Linked DNA regions of Homo sapiens. The protein of the gene in region 2 interacts with the protein of the main gene of each other region in a biochemical or structural test. Each region holds a gene or a part of one and is shown on either strand. Other genes may lie near its edges.

Evidence for each region. Proteins that work in one complex are often made in the same cells at the same time.
Region 1: the proteins of TACC3 (region 2) and NDEL1 form a complex in vitro, tested with the Homo sapiens proteins (one study listed by BioGRID).
Region 3: the proteins of TACC3 (region 2) and ARNT form a complex in vitro, tested with the Homo sapiens proteins (2 studies listed by BioGRID, with this or other methods).

The regions. Positions count from the first base shown.
Region 1 is NC_000017.11:8,438,873-8,445,898, reverse strand, and holds part of NDEL1 (nuclear distribution protein nudE-like 1), read right to left. Parts: intron 1,973-7,026; exon of another isoform or gene 1,750-1,972; coding exon of another isoform or gene 1,723-1,749; intron 1,640-1,722; coding exon of another isoform or gene 1,628-1,639; coding exon 1,542-1,627; intron 189-1,541; coding exon 35-188; intron 1-34. UniProt on the Homo sapiens protein: Required for organization of the cellular microtubule array and microtubule anchoring at the centrosome. May regulate microtubule organization at least in part by targeting the microtubule severing protein KATNA1 to the centrosome.
Region 2 is NC_000004.12:1,724,495-1,731,520, reverse strand, and holds part of TACC3 (transforming acidic coiled-coil-containing protein 3), read right to left. Parts: intron 3,814-7,026; coding exon 2,734-3,813; intron 635-2,733; coding exon 559-634; intron 350-558; coding exon 220-349; intron 1-219. UniProt on the Homo sapiens protein: Plays a role in the microtubule-dependent coupling of the nucleus and the centrosome. Involved in the processes that regulate centrosome-mediated interkinetic nuclear migration (INM) of neural progenitors.
Region 3 is NC_000001.11:150,831,585-150,838,610, forward strand, and holds part of ARNT (aryl hydrocarbon receptor nuclear translocator), read right to left. Parts: intron 4,910-7,026; coding exon 4,696-4,909; intron 3,057-4,695; coding exon 2,954-3,056; intron 816-2,953; coding exon 750-815; intron 320-749; coding exon 234-319; intron 1-233. UniProt on the Homo sapiens protein: Required for activity of the AHR. Upon ligand binding, AHR translocates into the nucleus, where it heterodimerizes with ARNT and induces transcription by binding to xenobiotic response elements (XRE).

The DNA.
Region 1 (7,026 bases), on a different chromosome or scaffold from region 2:
CACATTAGACCCCAGCGTCTACTGCTGCAATTACCTTTAATGCCTCCACTTCATATTTCAGTCTTTGGTTATCAGCCTGCAAGTCTCTATTTCTTTGTTCAGCCTGTACTAATTGTGCCTCCAACTCTGCTTCTAATTCTCTGCTTCCTTCCTGGAATTCAACTAGCTCATCCCGAGCTTCCTGGAAGCTAATCAGAAACAAAGTGGGAAAGACGAGTTACACTAAGAACCACAAGGATTGTCTTGGAGGTGATTATAGAGCAATTCGATAATTTTTGCTTGAATGCTAATGCTCTCATAAAATATACTAAAGACAATCTGTTTTGCATCTCTTACTGTATATATTCAGGGTTCAATGAAAACGACAAGCCCAAAAAGGAGCCACAAGTCAGTGATTACAATATTTATGAAAAGTAAGGCTACGTGGCTCAATACCATTAGCTTCTTCCACCACAGAACTCAGATGCGAGAAAAATGCATTTTTACTTTCATTAAAGTAACAAATTTGGCATTTCCTTCTACCATATTCAACAGAAATCACACATATTTTCACATCACAATAGAATCGTTGCATGTATCTCTAAATATATTTATTTTCATGACTATTTCAAAATTAGGTAGTTATTACATTCACTTCTGTATCTTTTTTTATTTAATGCATTAATAGAGAAGTACATGTTACTATGCCATAAATTAGTTTAATATTTAGATAACTTTTTTCAATATAATTGATTTTCTTTGTAATTCTATTATTCTATGCATTTAAAAATATTATGCTGAGGAGTCCACAGGCTACCCCAGCCCATTAAGACATCTATGACACAGAAAAAGATTAAGAACCCTGCCATAGATACACACCTTTCATATCCACTGGCACAATAGAATAACTGACTTCGGTGATAATAATGAAAGGGCAGTAAAAGGTTTGATAAGACTTAGTAAACTCTGTTAACCAAAATAGGAAAATGTATCAATATTTTATTTAGCAAGATCCCATTTTTAAAAAAGAAATTTGAGACAAGTTTTGTTGCTTAAAAGGTTGTTGCCTGAAAGTTCTCCCAACCAAATAACTGAAATTTTATAAAACGTTCCATGCCCCTGAAGCTTCTCCCCCTCCCTCAAAGCTTTGCTGGCTCCAGACACTGATCATGCTTGCCTGAGGAGAACGTAAAGTCTGTTCTATGGAGCCCCAGACAGCTTATCAGAATCTCCAAATGACCAAAATGATGAGGCAGAATCAGTGCATGCAAAACGGGCCAAAGATGGCCCCGCCTACTAAAAAGCATAGAACAGGTAACAATCAGAAGAAATCATAAATGACAGTTTTCCTACTATTTTAATAATTTGAACAATATAAAGACTTATGGCATGTTTACACTATTTAAATACAACCCATGTGGTGACTGTTTGTAGAATCTCAATCCTAGAATCCTAAATCTGCAATTCTAAATTTAGCTTTATGTTAAAAAGAAAAATGCACAAACAAGACACGGTGTATTCCAAATGCCCTCCCCTACTTTTAGTGTGCTTTCCAACATTACCTTTGCTTATACTTCAAGGAAAGTTCCTTCCAATAAGCAGTTTCCTCCTTTAAACTTGAAAAATCTGGTATATCTTCACCATCCATGATCAAGAAAGCCTGTGAAATATTAAAGACAAACTTAACAAATTAGAGAACAGAGAAATCTAAGCACAAGCATAAAATCTGGGACAACACTGAACTGCAGCATTTTGGAGGGAATAAAACATGAGAGATTCCAGTGGTTAACTCTCTTCAAACTCAGGCACGTCAATCACTCCACTGCTCCACTCTCAGGGACCACCAATATTGTGAATGAGATCATGACAAAGGTCCTTTGATACAAAGCGACAGGAGGCACTTTTGGTTGCAGCATAGGCGCTGGGTGACTTGGGCCCACAGAATCATCCTGCACACAGAGTTGCAGCAGTTGGTTTAAGGCCACGTGGTCTTCTGCGAATCGGGAGACAGAAACAAGCTTATTGTCAGAGATGCTGCTACCGCATGCATGCTGCCCTTCCCAGGTATACAACTGCTTCAAAACATCTGCTTGGAACATTTTATGCCAGGTGACCCTACTAGAAAATCAGGCACCACATTCCCAATAATTTACTATTATCAAATCTCTAAAAACCTCCTGTTAATCATCTTTTAAGTCCAAAGCTTCCTTCCAAAAGCCCACTAATCTCCAACTTCAATGATCTCTCTCTCTCATCCTGGTTCTTCTCTCCCAAGGCATTCAGAGAGGAGAAAAAAAGCGATTTAATTAACTAACATTTGGACTGGCTACCTACAACTCCCAACTGATCGTCAGGCCCACTCTAGAGGCATGCCTACTGCTTCCTAGCACCCCCTCCCCAGGCATCCCACTCTATATTCTGGCAGTACTGTTCGAAACTGTCTTAACACACCAGGCTCTTTCAGGCATGGAAAACTACTCCAGGTTTTCTCTACCTGGAGTGGCTCCCCTAAATAGGAAAACTACTATTTATCCTTAAAACCTAATTGTCATCTTTTCCAGAGAGGTTTTCTTGCCCTCAACTGGACAGCATTAAAATCTCTTGCATTCTTTGCTACCTCTGTACCCCACACATGCTTTCACTGATATTATTACCACAGGGCAATGCATTTGCTTACACCTTTGTGTTGCCTGTTAGGCTGGCTTACTTATTTCCGTCTCAGCCCAATGCCTGCACAATAGTGGATACTCAATGATATTTACTGAATTAAACCATAATTGATTCAACCTATTCCATACTAGGCAGCAAGAACTCAAGACCAGCTTTAAAAGTAAATTAATAGGCTAGGTGTGGTGGCTCATGCCTGTAATCCCAGCACTTTGGGAGGCCGAGGCGGGCGGATCACGAGGTCAGGAGATTGAGACCATCCTGGCTAACACGGTGAAACCCCATCTCTGCTAAAAATACAAAAAATTAGCCGGGCGTGGTGGCAGGCGCCTGTAGTCCCACCTACTCGGGAGGAGAATGGTGTGAACCCGGGAGGCGGAGCTTGCAGTGAGCCAAGATTGCGCCACTGCACTCCAGCCTGGGGGACAGAGCGAGACTCCGTCTAAAAATCTAAAAAAAAAAAAAAAAAAAAAAAGTAAATAAATAAAAACCTGGAGATGCATAGAACTTGGAGTTTATCTAGCACAAGCCACTCAGGAAGGTTTAGCAAAAAAAAAAAAAAATCTTTTTAAAGGAATGAACGGTTAAATCTCTCCACATCATCAAACATAGAACACAGTGGAAGTTCAATAAATATTTGAATTGAGGCTGGACACGGTGGCTCATGCCTGTAATCCCAACACATGGGGAGGCTGAGGCAGGAGGACTGCTTGAGCCCAGAAGCAATGAGGCTGCAGTAAGCCATGATTTTGAGGCTGCAGTGAGCCATGATTGTGCCACTGCACTCCAGCCTGGGCAACACAGCAAGACCCTGTCTCTAAAATAAATAAATAAATATGTGAACTGATTTATAATCATCCTTTCAATATTCCCTCTTGACTTTCAAAGTACCACTTTATTAACATCTGAATTCCTACTTCAGGAATGGAGTAAGCAAAAAGATGTGCGGGTAGTTTACTTCCACCTTACAATGTACCACCATATATTAAATCAATATTAGAAAACCTATCATTATCAGTTAGACAAAATTATTAATCCGATACATGGGCAGCCACATTCAGTCACTGACATAGGCTCAGTACAGGCTCCACATCAAAGAATAGGGAGTTGATGGGATTTATTGGGAAGAACCTTAGAGATAACCACTGCACACTAGCTACCTCAAATCATCATTATCCGGCCCTGAAATATAAATGGACAACCAAGAGCCATCTGACAAGTAAGAAAACCCAGTAGCATGAATAAGAAAATTTTAGGACCTAGTGAACTGAGAGGAAACAGACAATTCAGGAAATGAGATTTTTTCTTATACAAGAACTCAGAAGGTACTAGACAAAGACTTAAAAAAAAAGGTCAGGAGGGCTACCTCCTACACACTTCCTGAGACAAGTACAAAAGAAGGGAGAAAACCATGACCTGGACAGCATGGGATGCAGGAAATAGGGGCTCCAACCTAGGGCTGCAATGAAAAGTCCCAGGATGAAGCCTAGTCCATCAGGCCCATAGAATGCTTCAGACGGATGACACCAAGAAAAATAAGGAATCCCATAGAACAGATAGCATAGAGCACAAGTGAGAAGCTAGATATATTTGAGGTTGTGGTGAAGACATGTTACTCTACTGTCACTAAGAAAAAGAGAAATTTAAAAGCTCAGGAAAATAAAAAAAGCAATAGAAGAAAGTCCTGATCCTTATATAAAGCATTTTGTAAGTTAATGATTTCAAGTCTAAAACTTGTAATGTATTGATTTTATCTTATTTGAAGCAACTGGGATAAGTTCCATAACTTTATAGCCATCGATGAACTTCCTGTTTTTGGTCTTAGCTTTGCCCTGAGTCCCATGTGCTGCTCTCTTGGAAGGTTCCAGGATTTGGCGAACAAAATTGTATTCTCCTTTTTTATGTCCCCTCTGGTTTTGTAGCCTTTGATGATAATACCTCTCAGCCTTGGTCTTCCCAAAGTGATTATTTCTTGCCTTTTTAGCCTATAATGATTTGGCAGCCATCTCAGTCCCTTAAATATTTTGTTATGCTTTGTATTGCCCCTAGATTACCTATCTGCCTTTCTGGGGCTGAGTGCCTAGTGCTGCTTCTGTACTGAACATTTTATTCACTGGTCAGATCATTTTTCTTTTGAGTTTTCAGTACTCTTTCTGTTACTGTGCAGCATTTGATGATATTGCTAGTAGTGTGGCCCATGAACCGGTATCATTATGGAAGTTCCTAATGACTGTTAGATACCTTCCTTGGCATCTAACATTTATTTGAAGGTGTTTGAATGTGGGGCCAATTCTTCTACGAAAAGAGTTAGGATTGTTTTGAATCTCTAAATGTTATTCAGGAGTCCACTTCAAAACATTTCCATGTGGGGGTATTTTTTGTTGGTTTTGACCCATTTATATAGTATCAGAGGACATACTAGCAGTTAATGCTTTGAAGAGCACCTAGTTAAGTAGTAATCCCTGAGGAATAGCATTGTTTACCCCTCTGGATGTATTGCGAGTATCCATTTGTCTCTGACTTCTGGTTCTTGTACAGGGACATATTCTTAATACAACACCAACTTTTCCATGAGTGTCCCCTGATAACTCAGGTTTTTAAATAGCCTTTTGCATGAAACTTTTTGAGAATCTAGTTCTAGCCCTTGCATCCTCTTTGTCCAACTACTTACATTCAGTGTCAAGTAATTCTAGCAAAATTATTTTACTTCACACACATTCTTTTTTTTTTTTTTTTTTTGAGATGGAGTCTCACTCTGTTGCCCAGGCTGGAGTGCAGTGGCACAATCCTAGTTCACTGCAACCTCTGACTCCCAGGTTCAAGCAATTCTCTTGCCTCGGCCTCCTAAGTAGCTGGGATTACAAGCACCCACCACCATACCTGGCTAATTTTTGTATTTTTAGTAGGACACGGTTTCACCATGTTGGCCAGGCTGTCTCGAACTCCTGACCTCGTGATCTGCCCTCCTCGGCCTCCCAAAGTGCTGGGATTACAGGCATGAGCCACCGCGCCTGGTCACATTCTTTATTTTCTTGCTGAATCTCATGTGAATTGAATGTTGACCACAACTTTTCTAATCAATAGGCTATTTTCATAACCCGCTTATTGGCCCCTCTAACAGTATTATAACCTATGTTGGATATCATTTACTAAAAGGACCATCATCTCTTCCAGATCAAAACAATTTAAAACATTTAACCAAGAATAAGTCATAGGAGCAGCATAGCATAGTGGTTAAGAGCCCAGACCGGGAAGCCAAACTGCCCAAGTCTGAAGTCAGACCTGGAAGTTCAGACTCGCTACTGATGCATCTACTCACTACTTGGGTGACCTTGGGCAAGTGACTTAATGACTCAGTGCCCCATTTCCTCACCTGTAAAATGGGGATAATCATTAGAATGAGCTTATGAAGTGAGCTAATATTTGTAAAGTACTTAGGACAGAACCTGGCACATAGTAAAAACCTAAATGTTCATCAAGCTATTAAAAATTGGTAGTTCGATAGCAGACCTTTCAAGTATGACCACAAAGTAAACAGGCTTCAAAATTTAAAACATGCAAATGATTCTTTAAAACTGATCATTTCAGGAATATATGCATATTCCAGTGATATCACCATTGCTGAAAAACATTTCCAAAACTTCTTTTTTGGAATAGCCTTTATGAGCCACATTAAGAACAAAGCAGGCGAACAAAGCAGGCCAGGCGCGGTGGCTCATGCCTATAATCCTAGCACTTTGGGAGGCTGAGGCAGGCGGATCACTTGAGGTTAGGAGTTCAAGACCAGCCTGGCCAACATGGTGAAACCTCGTCTATACCGAAAATATGAAAAAAAAAAAAAAAAATTAGCTGGGTATGGTGGCCGGCACCTGTAATCCCAGCTACTCAGGAGGCTGAGGCAGGAGAATCGCTCAAACCCGGGAGGAGGAGGTTGCAGTGAGCCGAGATTGGCCACTGCACTCCAGCCTGGGCAAAAGGGTGAGATTCCATCTCAAATAAAAGAAAAAAAAAAAGGCCGGGCACAGTGGCTCACACCTGTAATCCCAGCACTTTGGGAGGCCGAGGCGGGCGGATCACGAGGTCAGGAGATTGAGACTATCCTGCTAACATGGTGAAACCCCGTCTCTACTAAAAACACAAAAAACTAGCTGGGCGTGGTGGTGGGCACCTGCAGTCCCAGCTACTCGGGAGGCTGAGGCAGGAGAATGGCGTGAACCCGGGAGGCAGAACTTGCAGTGAGCCGAGAGCGCGCGACCGCACTCCACTCCAGCCTGGGTGACAGAGAGAGACTCCGTTTCAAAAAAAAAAAAAAAGAACAAAGCAAAAACTTCTTACTTTGTGGTCACACCTCATCTTTATTGCTTCCTAACTGGTATTATC
Region 2 (7,026 bases):
TTTCTAGAAGTCTTTTATGTTAAAGGTATGAGCCCTGCTCTCCTAACACTGACTAAGTTTTGACAAACCACAAGTTTGTGCATGAGTCATTCAAAGTCAAGGGACCCAACTGCCTGCGAAATGACCACCTGCCGATGATGCAGGTGTCTCGAGCTGCCCAAGTGCTCACGGGATCCCCTCCGGGCAGACTGTGTGTGACGTCTGTGCCAGGCAACGTACCCTCAGCGGGGTCTCTGAAGCTCTCCTCTTTCAGCTCCAAGGCAGGCTGCCCCTGCTGATGGGTGGGCACTGGCTCACTGCCTGGACAGCTTGTGGGAAGCGAGGTGCTGGCAGAGTTCAAGGCTCTCTCCTGGAGGAAAGGGCAGAGTCACCCTGTGCAGTGCAGTCAAGGTACTTGGGGTGTGGCTTTGCCTCCCCACAACCTTGTTGAAGTAGACTTGGGGGAGAGGGAGCGGGACATCCCACCCCGTCACCCAAGGCTGCTGGGGGCTTCCACTGCCTGCTACTCTTCTACACGACCAGGCCAGGAGCACAGGTACCCACACAAGCACCCCTTACCTTGCTCTCTGCTGTTGGGGTCTCGGCTGCCAACTGCACCACAGGCGTGTCCTCCGCTGAGGCTGAATGCAGCTGCCTGGGGAGACAGAGTCAGCAGAGGCCCATGCCCCCCACCCCATAACCCCGGCGTCCCCTGCTCCAGCACTGAGCTGCCATCGCCTTTCCCTGCACTGCTGTGCCGGCCACGTGAACATTCAGCTAGAGCGTGCCAGGCATGGGGCTGTCCCAAGCGACCTGGCCACAAAACTGCCTCACCAACCTCACCCAGCAGGAAAACACGCGCCTTGCCTGCCAGCTCTGGGAGAAGCAGGCTGGGAGCTCTAAAGTCAGCACGATGCAGCCAAAGGGAATCACAAGGATGAGTACATCCCTTTTACTGTGAAACTGACAAAAGGCTTCAAATGTGGAGGCTGGGGCAGGTGTGGGCAGCAAGCCACCCAGGGGCCAAGGCAAGACACCAAGGGCACAAGCTGTTCCAGTATCATAAATATACAGAATAAGAATAGTTATACTAGAAATAGATTATAGATATGATTATATATGAATATCGTTAATCATTAGTTTGTAGCTTTACTCTTTATTCTAATATTATAATAATCTTTGTTCTACAATAATAACCTAGGAAACGCCGGGTGCGGTGGCTCACGCATGTAATCCCAGCACTTTGGGAGGCCGAGGCGGTCGGATCACGAGGTCATATCTAGACCATCCTGGCTAACACGGTGAAACCCCGTCTCTACTAAAAAATACAAAAAAATTAGCCGGGCATGGTGGCGGGTGCCTGCAGTCCCAGCTACTCGGGAGGCTGAGGCAGGAGAATGGTGTGAACCCGGGAGGCAGAACTCGCAGTGAGGCGAGATCACGCCACTGCGCTCCAGCCTGGGTGACAGAGCGAGACTCTGTCTCAAAAAACAAACAAACAAACAAATAACCCTAGGAAAAACCAGGCCATATAGAGATAGGAGGTGAAGGCACACGGTGAGAAAGTGACCGGAAGAGGTGTGTGAGCCCTCTGTCACGCCCGGACAGGGCCACTGGAGGGCTCCCTGGTCTAGCGGTAACACCAGCACTTGGGAAGGCACCCGTTACCTAGCTTGGTCTAGCGGTAGCACCAGTGCCTGGGAAGGCACCCGTTAATTAGACTGGGAAAGGGAGTCTCCCTTTCCCTGGGGGAGTTAGAGAAGACTCTGCTCCACCATCTCTTGTGGAATCAGTCAGGCCCGCCCGCAGCCATCCAGAGGCCTGTGTCCCTGTGATGCTGTGCTTCAGCAGTCACGCTCCTGGTCCACTTTCATGATCCGCTCTGTACACCTGGCTCTGTCTTCTAGATAGCAGTAGCAGAATTAGTCAAAGTGCTAAAGTCTTTGAAATACATAGAAAAAATAATGGCGTCAGCTGTCCTCTCTCTCCGCCTTGGCTGCCAAACAGGGAAGGGCCCAGTGGACACGTGACTTGCGTGACCTGACCTATCATTGGAGATGGCTCACACTCCTTAACCTGTCCCCTTGCCTTGTATCCAATAAGTAACAGCGCAGCCAGACATTCGGGGCCATTACCGATCTCCGTGCCTTGGTGGTAGTGGTCCCCCGGGCCCAGCTGTCTTTTCTTCTGTCTTTTTCTTGTGTCTTTATTTGTACAATCTCTTGTCTATGCACACGAGGAGAAAAAACCCACAGACCCAGTAGGGCTGGACCCTACAGGCAGGACAATCTCCCACTGAGCAACTCTAGGAGATGTAGCCTAAGACCATTCAGCCAGGAGGCAGCAGACCCACGGCCAAGACCCCAGCAAGCAGCGGACGCCACCCAGGCAGTAACAGGCTTTGCCTGGCTTTTGGAGTTACACACCCAAGTCAAGTTCACCTGAGGAGGAACATGACTGGGGGACAGGGTCCTGCCCAGGGTTGGTTGCATTTGGCTTCTGGCCTGAGCCCGCCCTTATTGGATCCCTCCTTAGGCCAGGAGCACTAAAGAGATGCATGGCAGCCAAGGCAAGGCCAAGCACCCTCAGCTGGGAGCCACCTGAGCCCTGTTTTTATCCAGAGGCCCCTCCTCAGGCAGAACCTACCCGGCCTCAAAGGAGTATCTGATGACACTTCTGGCCTCGGGTCCTGGACCACATACACTGCAGGGCAGCTGCCCCACGCCACGCTCCCCATCCCATCCTCACACTTACTGGCTCAGACAGGGACCTGGCTCCTCCGTGGCAGGCCCAGCATGCAACTGTTCAGCCGCTGGCTGGCCCAGCCTGGTCTCAGGGCTTTCTGGGGGCTGGGCCTCACTGCAACCAGACTTGGTGTCACCTCCGAACGGGATGAAGTTTGGGTCATCCATTTTGTCCCAGTCGAGGTGGTAAGAGCCCCGAGAAGCTGGCATGGGGGGGTCCTCTCCTGCTCCGCTCCTACCGTCGTCCTCCTCCACCTCCTGCGGGGCCTTTTGCTGCCTCACTGCTGCTTTCCTCAAGGGAGGCTTGAGGCCGGACCTCTCTCCCAGTCTCCTTGGTGGGGGTGCCCTTTTGCTGGTGGCGCCATCAGATACATCAAATTCTAGTTTTACAGGTCCGCTCCTCGAGGAGCTGGCCATTTGGCCTGCAGCCACTTCTTCCTGAGGACTCAGGGTCATGGCCCTGCCAGCCACCAGGTGGTTGGTTGGGGCTGTGCTCTCAGGAGCAGAGGTGTGTGCACAGGTAAGGGTCTGAGTGCCATCTGCTGGCACGGGGGTGCCCACACCCGCAGGGCAGCCCAGGGCTTCGCCAGGCAGACCCTGCAGGGGTGCTCCTCCGCAGGCTTCCTTAGGGATTGCACCAGGAGGCGAAGTGGCCACTGCTGCGGGAGCACAGACCCCACCGTGCCGGCATTCCTCCTCGGCTCCGTGCGGAGTCTCCGCTTTGCATTCTTCCTCGGCTCCGTGCGGAGTCTCCGCTTTGTGCTGGGACTCTGTCCTGCAAGGGTCTTCTAGGGTCTCAGAGGCGGGTGTCACTCTTCTGTCTAAGGAATAGGAACTAAGGTTTTCCTCCACGGCTTGCTCAGGGCTGCCAGACACTTTTCCTGGAGACACCATTTGGTTCTCAGAACTTCCTGGGCTCTGGGAAGAGCTTGAGCAGTCCAGGTCAGCCAGGGCACCTGGGCCAGACTCGCTGGAGCTGCCACTCCCAAAGGCTGGGCTTGCATCCCCCAGGAGGTCGGTGTCAGCCTCCACTGGTTTCTGTAGAATTCCATGAGTAGTTTTGGCATCCACTTCCTTGATGAGCTGTTGGCTTTTAAAAGAGACTTAATCAACGTGAAGCAGCGAGTACCTGGTGAGGTTAGGGGCCTCAGCATTCATTCTCAACATAGGTTTAACATTCTCACACCAGAAGCAGGGCTGAGTCACCCTTGGCACGGCTTCCCGTTCTCCACCCCCCACCTCAGTTCCTCAATGTAGTTCCTTCCTGTCCTCCCAGGGACCAGCTCCCGGTGGAACGGCTGGACACAACCACGTGACTTCCTCGCTGACCCCGCCCTCATGCTTCTTGGGGTTCCAAGTTACAGGGGTGCCTCTGGGCTGCTTGCCTGTTTAATTGTGCTCATCACGCGCTTTGCCAGGTGCTGGACCCAGACTCCTCCAGCAGCCTCTGCCACCCAAACAGCACTCGTCATCATGCACGAGGTCTGCCCCCAGGCCCACAGCATGCACACAGCACAGGCTGCTGCCTGGGGGGTCAGATGTGGGACAGCACACCCAAATGCCTCAAGCTGATGCCAGAGAAAGAAGCCTGGAGGCATCTCTCCCACCTGGTAGACTGGGCTCCTCAATTTCCCACCACTTCCTTTATTTTTATGTTTTTTTTTTTTGAGACGGATTTTTGCTCTGTTGCCAAGGCTGGAGTGTAATGGCATGATCTCGGCTCACTGCAACCTCCACCTCTGGGGTTCAAGCGATTCTCCTGCCTCAGCCTCCCAAGTAGCTGGGATTACAGGTGCCCGCCACCATGTCTGGCTAATTTTGTTTTGTATTTTTAGTAGAGACAGGTTTTCATCATGTTGGTCAGCCTGGTCTCAAACTCCTGACCTTAGGTGATCCACCCGCCTCGGCCTCCCAGTGCTAGGATTACAGGCAGGAGCCACCGCACCCGGCATCCACCATTTCCTGTAAAAAATCCATTCGAGCACCTGCCCACCAGCATACAGTGACCCCACCCTACTCCCCGATAGACAAGGCTGGCTGCCACCCTCTCAGCTGTCCCCTGCCTATGCTCCAGGGCCTGGCCCCAGTCCTCTGTGTGGCCTCCAGCCTGCTGTGGGCCTGTAAGTCATATAATCATTATTTCCGCCTGTGTTTCTCCTAATCACTGAAGGGTGTGCACCACTTAATGACCCTGAATTCTAACATTAAGGGACCTGACAGCATTCCGATAACACTTTAATCTGCGTGAAAACATCAGCTACAAGCAAAACAAGAAAGCTCAGTCAACATTGTCCTGTGGCTTAAACCTCACCCGAGGACATGCCCAACAGATCAGTCCTGGGGACTTGCAGGCCCCAGGATGGCCAGCAGGGGGCGTGGTAAACAAAGGTTTTCTGCATGAATCTGCTTTCCCCTTCAAGTCGGGGACTGGCAGTGCTGTGGCCAGGGACAGTCAAAGCCTTCACTGAAGGGCAGGGCTGAGGTGCAGGATGCCACCTGCAGGCACAGAAGGACCTGAGTGGCCTCTGCGACGCCTCCCTGGGATGGCGCCTGCTACAGTGGAGTGGCACAGGTGCAGAGAACACCTTCCCAGGGACCCACCTGTCTCTGGGGCACTCGCTGCTCACAATGTGGGACTGCATGGCGCAGGGCCCCTGACAGAAGAGGCGGCTGTTGGGATGGTTGGGGCTGGACTACAACACAGAGGGCACAAACACTGTTTCACCTGTTCCCCAGCCTTCAGGTCCCTGAGAAGACGCAGGGTCATGTGCCAGTGCCTCAGATAAGGGGCCCATGTCACCTGCCCTTCTCTTCCAACTCTAAGTTTGAAGATGTCAAAACTGAGAAACTGAGGGTGAGGGACCTGTCAGACTGCTCACAACTCCTCTGCTGCCCAGCTGCCACCTTGGGGCGGCACTGCCTTCCCAGGCGGCCACTCGGCTGTCCTCTGAATGACACGTGGGCAGCTGCACGCAGCGGCTGCTCTTGGTCTCATCCCACTGACGTGGGAGCACCACAGTGACCACCACCTGGGCCTCAGCAGAGTTCCAGAAAGGAGATGACAGCCACGAGTCCAAGCCACAAGCTCAGAGTCACTCTGGCTGGAGCCCCTCAGGGCCAACCTCTCAAGCCCCTCCCAGCTCCTCTACACCCTCTGCCCTATGGAGGCTGCTGGGTGATCCTGGAGGCATAGGGGAGAGGCAGGGGATCTGTGGCTCTGGGACGGATCACACCCATGGCAGCTGGGAGGCGACTTCTCTGCTGCTGGGTCTCCCTTCCTTCTTGGGGTCGTTGTAAACCAATGTTTGATTCATTCTCGCTTCGTTTGACCAAATTTCAAAAGGGGCAAAAAACAAAGTTGAAAAGTAGCAAGCAGACATGGGAAGAACTGCAAATTCAGGCTGGAGGGGTAGAGGGGAGACGGACCCAGGGCCCAGAGAAGGATGTAGGAAATGCTGCCTGCACTTACTGGTGACATTTTATCTCAGGGGGTGAGAAGCATCAGTGGTATTCTGTTCCTTATGCTTTTCTCTGCACATCTAAAATCTGCTTAAAAGTTTTGGGCCAGCCGGGCGTGGTGGCTCATGCCTGTAATCCCAGCACTTTGGGAGGCCGAGGCCGGCAGATCACCTGAGGTCGGGAGTTCAAGACCAGCCTGACCAACACGGATAAACCCCATATTTACTAAAAATACACAAAATTAGCCAGGTGTGGTGGCGCATGCCTGTAATCCCAGCTACTCGGAGGCTGAGGCAGGAGAATCGTTTGAACCTGGGAGGCGGAGGTTGTGGTGAGTTAAGATCGCACCATTGCACTCCAGCCTGAGCAACAAGAATGAAACTCCGTGTAAAAAAAAAAAAAAAAAAAAAATTGGCCGGGCATGGTGGCTCACAGTTGTAGTCCCAGCTACTAAGGAGGCCAAGGTGGAGGACTGCTTGAGCCCAGGAGGTTGAGGCTGCAGTGAGCTGTGATGGCACCACGGCACTCCAGCCTGGGTGACAGAGCGAAACTCTGTCTCAAAACAACAGCAACAACAGTTACATCAGCAAAAAACCAACAGAAAATCATGCCTCTGGGGTCCCTTCCCACCCTGGATGCAGATGAGGTGTTCCTGGGTGCCCAGACAGATTAGTTCAGCCGCAGAGTAAAGAGCTGCCACCAGGATCCTCCCTTTCTAGGCAAAGACAGACACCGCCTCGCCATCCACTTGCAGTTAAGAATCAGGTCGGCTAAAAAATTAGCCGGGAGTGGTGGCGGCGGGCGCCTGTAGCCCCAGCTACTCGGGAGGCTGAGGCAGGAGAAT
Region 3 (7,026 bases), on a different chromosome or scaffold from region 2:
TTCTGTGACACAGCCAATACTGAATCATTTTCCAGCCTGAGTTATCTATCTCCTCAACTGGAATAAAAGCTCAATAATGGAAGGGAAGGATTGTACATTTTCTTTTCCTATTTTCTTTCATCTTACACAAAAGTACATTTCATATACCAGGTATATAATAAATATTAGCTTTCATGGACTCTGTGAGGAACCAACTGTACCAAGGGGAAATATTTACTATTTCACTTTCTTACCTGCTGGGGGCCAGGCCTTGATGTAGCCTGTGCAGTGGACCACCACGAAGTGAGGTTCCCCATCCTTTACAGAGCCAAGTCCATTCCTAGAAGAGTTACAGGAGTTTGAAAAAAAAAAAAAAAATCTACCCGTAAAACTCAAAGGGCAATGCTGCCTTAGTACTTTTAAGTTTATGCTCTTAGGAGTTTAGAAAACAGGATAATCATCTTTCCCACCCAAAAATGACCGCCACATTTTTACCCTTGCCAAAGTAAAGTAACCAAAAGGTATGCAGTAGGAGGAAAGTAGGTAAAATAGCATAGCGACTTCCTTAAACAGGATTTTCAAGAGAAGTTTTAGAAGTTTAGGAAAATATTGCCAGAAAAAAAGTAAGTGGGAGGTAAGGGATGTTAAGTGGGAGGTAAGGGATGCAAGTGAGAGCTGCTGAAGGAACGACTACAGTAAGACAGGTAAAAATGTGATGATCTCTGCAGGTATTTGGCCATCCCTTTGGTTTTCACCACTTAGGATCTCACCTGCATCTGTTCCTCACAAAGCTCAGCCTATTCACAGAAACTGGGTCCACAGAGCTACTGCCACACCTGTTTCAAGGAATAAAGAGATTAAAAGCAATCAGACTGCCCTATCAAAGAACTTTCCACAGTAATAGCAGAATAACATGCTCTGGATACAACCAGACATAGAAAATTGGTAATGCTACTAATAATGAAGGATAAAGATAGGTCAAGTTTAGTATTTCTAAAACTTTTAGAATTTGAAGTCAAAATGTTCCATATGTTCTTCATATGCAAACATTCTCAACATCAAGAGTTGGCAAGCTTTTTCTGTAAAGGACCAGATAGTACATATTTTCAGCTTTGCGGGCCAGAAAGTCTGTTGCAACTAGTCAACTCTAGCATTATAGCATGAAAATAGCCATAGATAATATGTAAAAATATGGGCATGGCTATGTTCCAATAAAACTTTATTTACAAATAAAGGGCTGTGGTTTGCTTACTCCTGCTCTACATTAACCACAACTTAATGTAATTGCTACAGTTCATTATTATCTTGCTCTTGCCTATGTCTTTGCATTAGCCATGTCCACATATTGGGATACTCCTGCCAATGCTACTTTCCCTCTCCCTATCCTTTAAAACAAAAATAAAACTTACATAGGGTTAATATGTGTCATGCTCTGTTCTAAATATCTTTACATATATTAATTCATCTAATCTTCATAACAACTTTATAAAGTCAGTATTAACATTATCGCCAATGTGAGATGATGAAATCAAAGCACAATGTAGTCATGTAATCATCCAAGGTTTCAGAAGATAGCATCAAAGCTAGAATTCAAATCCATAGAATATGGATTAAAACAAAATCCAGCAGTCTGGGTCTAGAAGCTACTCTAAATTACACGCTGGGTGCAGTGGTTCAGGCCTGTAATCTCAGCACTTTGGGAGGCTGACGCAGGCGAATCACTTGAGGTCAAGAGTTTGAGGCCAGCCTGGCCAACATGGTGAAACACTGTTTTACTAAAAATACAAAAATTAGCCAGCTGTGGTGGCAATCCAGCTACTCAGGAAACTGAGGCATGAGAATCGCTTGAACCCAGGAGGTAGAGGTTGTAATGACCCAAGATCATGCCACTGCACTCCAGCCTGGGCAACAGAGCAAGACTCTGTCTCAAAAAAATAAATAAATAAAAATAAAAATAAATCACTAAACCACATAATGTTCAATTTTGTGCCTCTCCAAGCAAACCTTTAATATCCTACCCATAATTTCTAGCAACTATCCTCTCAGTACAATGTAGTCAATTTCCATTATATAGCCTGAACTTTGTGACCCTGAGATGCCTTTTGTACCTGTATAGAAAGGACCACCATATTTTCTACAGAATCCTAAAACGTACAGTATATAATTTATAAACACTAAACACCTACTGAAAGACATAGGAAGTCTCAAATTTCTAACCAAAAAAAAAAAGAAGAAATGGTCTGAGTAAATGGATATTGCCTTGTGTTGTAACAGGGAAAAAGTAGAGGTTTTGTAGTCAGACTACTATGAATTAAAACAAAATCCTGTATCAAACAGTATGTAACAGTGGGAAATTCATTTCTTTTTCTTTTTCTTTTTTTTTTTTTTGAGACAGAGTTTCACTCTTTTTGCCTAGGCTGGAGTGTAATGGCACAATCTCGGCTCACTGCAACCTCCACCTCCTGGGTTCAAGCAATTGTCCTGCCTCAGCCTCCAAGTGGCTGGGATTATGGGCGCACGCCACCACGCCCGTCTAATTTTGTTGTTGTTTTTTTTTAGTAGAGATGGGGTTTCACCATGTTGGCCAGGCTGGTCTCAAACTCCTGACCTCAGGTGATCCACTCGCCTCAGCCTCCTAAAGTGCTGGGATTACAGCCTTGAGCCACTGCACCTGGCCAAGTTCATTTCTTTATATCTGTTTTTCCATCTGCAAAATGGTAACCATCAATCTTACACTACAAGGCAATTGTGAGGATAAAATAAGATGACAGATATAAAGCACCTATCATAGTGTCTGGCAAGTTCAGAAACGTTAGTTCCCTTTCCAAATACTTTATTCTGTGTTACAATCCATCTGGGTATGGAGAGTTAAATTTAATCCACTGGAGCTAATCCAACTTAACTCTGACAGAAATAAAACTCTCAGCTCTTGATCCTTCCTATACCAAATCACAATCCTCAGCTTGACACTCACCTCATTCGGCAAATAAACGATCTCCTTGAGCCCATACACATTCTCATGGAAGACTGCTGACCTTCCTTTTTCACTGTTCCAGTCTTTAGATCCAGGATACGCCCTGAAGGAAGATGTGAAGAGCAGTCTGGAGTGCATTTTTGTGTGTGGGGAAGAGGGGGAGAGATACTGAAGGCAAAGATAAGTAAGCATCCTATTCATGCCCTTAATCTCCTTGCTTATAACAGAACTGACCAAGCAGGAGATGAATTTTTTTTCAAGCCTAAAATACTTCAATTATCATCAATGAATCTCACTCTTAAGTTCAAAGGCAGCATTGAAAATAACATTGTGCAAGGAAAAGTAGGAGTGGAAAGTAGTAGTAGAAAACAAGAGGCAAGGCTATATTCTCATAGCTGATTATCTGTATACACATACAGACATACATACAGAGTAAATGTCATTGGTTGAAAAACAAGTACTTTTCTGTAGTCCCAGCTAATCAGGAGGCTGAGGCAGGAGGACTGCTTGAGGGCAGGAGTTTGAGGCTGTAGTGTGCTATGACTGTGCCTGTGAAGAGTCACTGTACTCTAGCCTCAGCAATAAAGCAAGACCTTGTCTCAAAAAAAAAAAAAAGAATAAAAAGAAAAAATTTTAAAAAGAAAAAAACCAAGTAATTTTATATGTTATAGAAACATATAGATCTGTTTGTCTTCTTTATTATACAGAAACGAAGAACAACTTTTGGGGAAAAGGAAGAACTAGAAAAATGAAATCATAAAAACATAAAGGAGGGGAAAACTGGTCAAGTGTGGTGGCTCATGCCGATAATCCCAGCCCTTTGAGAAGCCAAGATGGGAGGAGGAATGCTGAAGGCCAGGAGTTTGAGACCAGTCTGGGCAACAGACAGAACCTGTCTCTACAAAAAATTTAAAAATTGGTCAAGTGTGGTGACATGAACTACTCCTAGCTACTCAAGAAGCTGTAAGCAGGCAGATTACTGAGCCCAGAAGAGTTCAAGATTACAGTAAGCTATGATGTGCCACCGTACTCCAGCCTAGGCAAGAGAGAGACCCTGTCTCTTTTTTGGGTGGGAAAAAAGGAGGAAAACTAAAGATCAACAACACTAATATGAGTATATTGAAATTTCTTGCATTTTAACTACCAGTTTTTTTATCTGCTTCCACTTTAAATTTTTTTCTAGAGTTGCTCAAGAATAGATATGACTTGTTTCCTCTAGCCAAACTCTGGCCAAAAGACTGAACATAATAAAATAGGGGAGAAAAAAAGAACAACAGTACAGATACAAACAACAACAACAACAACAACAGAAAACACCTTATACATTGACCAATAACCATATCTATAGAATAAAAAGCTGTTATCATTGAACCTAGCACAAAGCCAAGCACCAGGAGGTAGAAAAAATACCAGATAATTATCCATACAAATGAGATAAAAACATGGATAATTCTTTTAGAACGGAAAAAAAAAAGTATTGTAGGTTTGGCTTTTACTGTTCTATTTATACCAATATTAAGATAAATGTAAAATATTATCACCAATGAAATATTTTCTAAGGCTGAGCCACAAAGTAGATAATCTCATATGGATAAAAAGAACTGACTATATTCATTAAAGTAGAAAATTCTTGAAGCCTTGCCAGAGTCAACAAACCAATTTAACAGCTAAAACATCTCTTAAGTCTCAGGAAAAAAACAAGAAAGGACTTCTCATTCATTTCCCATACACATAACTCTCACCTGTCAGGGCATTTTCTGAAGTGGAAAGCTGCTCACGAAGTTTATCCACATCATCTGGGTGCACCTGATCATAGAGTGTGCTGCCAAACCATTCAGACTGTGGCTGGTTCAAAACAGGAGTCACGGAGTCAGACACATACACCACCCTGCCTGTCTCACATGAGACAATAAACAGAAAGCCATCTGCTGCCTCCAAGATCAAATGTTTCAGTTCCTGCGCAAGAAAAAGAAATAGAAGTTAATATTTTACTCTGAAAAAACAAGTATTTCTATTCACAGGAAGAAGTAAGACACTTCAGGCCACATGCATCTCTCCGTAAGCAACTGCTGGTTCACACCTGATCCACAGCCACAGGTTTCCACCCTAAATGTAGTTCATCGATAAGAAAGTTTTTTCTAATACATGTTTCCTCACTTTCTCTATGTCACTATCCACCTCTTCCTCTCTATCTCAGGATTCAAGAAGAATAAAAAGGCTTGGGCTAGGCACAGCGGCTCCCGCCGGTAATCCCAGCACTTTGGGAGGTCAAAGTGGGAGGGTCACTGAGTCCAGGAGTTCAAGACCAGCCTAGGCAATGGGGCGAAACTCCATCTTTACAAACAAACAAAACAAAACAAAACAAAAACAAAAACAAAACTAGCCAGGTGTGGTGGCACACGCCTGTAGTCCCAGCTACTCCGGAGGCTGAGGTGGGAGGATCACCTGAGCCTGGGAAGCAGAGGTTGCAGTGAGCCGAGATCATACCACCACACTCCAGCCTGAGCGACAGAGCAAGAGACCCTGTCTCAAAAAAAAAAAGGCTTACCATGAACAATAATTGACTTCTTAATTCCATCCTCTCTGGTCTCTTTTTAGGATCTTGCTTGACAAATATTCCCACTTTCTCTCTTTCCCTTCAGGCCTATAAAAATGATCAAGTTTTCTCAATTCTAGATAAATCTTCCCTCAGTTTGACCCACCTCATCTCTCTTTTTCAGCAGCAAGCTTATACTAAGAATAATGTTATATTCACTGGCTTTATCCTCTTACCTTTCAATTATTTCTCAATCCCACTTCACTCTCACTCTAAACTACTGTTTTCCTGTTTGGTTTGGTTTTTGTTCTGCCAGGAACAGCATACATATATTTTTAATGAGGTTACTAATGTCCTCCTAATTACCAATTCAAGTCCCTTTTCCTGGGTCTTCATCACTTTATTCAACCTCTCTGCAGAATGTGACAATGTCGTCCATCTTATCCTTTAAATTTTATTTTTCCCTACCTTCTTCTATGAGACTGTACTCCAATTTTTGCTTCCTCTTCTGTTTCAGACTTCCTTTCCTTTGTTCAAGTCTTAAATGTAGACATTTCCAAAGTTCATCTTAAGCCCTCTTTATTAATACCATACTTTCTTCCTGGGAAACCATATTCACTCTTCCCCACTACGAAATAATAACCAAGTCTATAGCCCTAGACATGACTAACGTTTTTTCCTGAGCTTTCAGCAGACTTGAATTTCAAGTATCTGTAAAATATTTATAAATATTCTACCAGCAACTCAACATCAACATCCCAAAACCTGAATCATTATTTCCCTCTTAAAAAAAAAAACCTGCCGTGCTCTTCCAATATTCTTAACAGCATCCTCCTAAGCTAGAAGCCTCAAAATCTAACTATTCTCTCACATTCCAGTGATAATTCAGTTTTATCGATTCTACTTTCCAATGCTTTGTCACTGTCCTAGTCATCTTTTACCAAAACTAATTAAGTAGTCGCCCTGCTTTCAATCAATCCTTAAAATGCTACCAGATCTAATACATTTTTTATGTCTCCCCACTGCATAAAAATTAAAATCTAAATTCTTTAACACCTAAACATTCCATCATTAGATCCCAGCCTACCTTCCTATTATCTACCAAAAACATGCTAAACCACTTGACTTTCTTTGCATAACCCAATTATTCCACACTTCTAGGTTTTTGCTCAAGTGCTTCCCAAAATCCACAACACTACTCCCCAACTCATTTTCCATATCTGCATTTTACAGGATTCATTACAGCACTTCTATTATAGAACTAGTTCTATGTTTAATTTATTTATTTACATGTCTGTTTCCACCAGAAAACCATTTGTCTCACCATTCTTTCTATTTCTCACAGCACAACACACCTGGTTTGCCCACAAAAGGTGCATAACTGGAGTCTGTTGAATACTTGCACATGTACTGTTAGAACATATTAACTATTTCAATGTATATAGCTACAAAGTATGTAGTTTTAAGTAGACCATCCTATTTGGAAAATTCTTATTCCATTTTCTCAAACTATATTCTCTCCTTCTTTCTAATCATT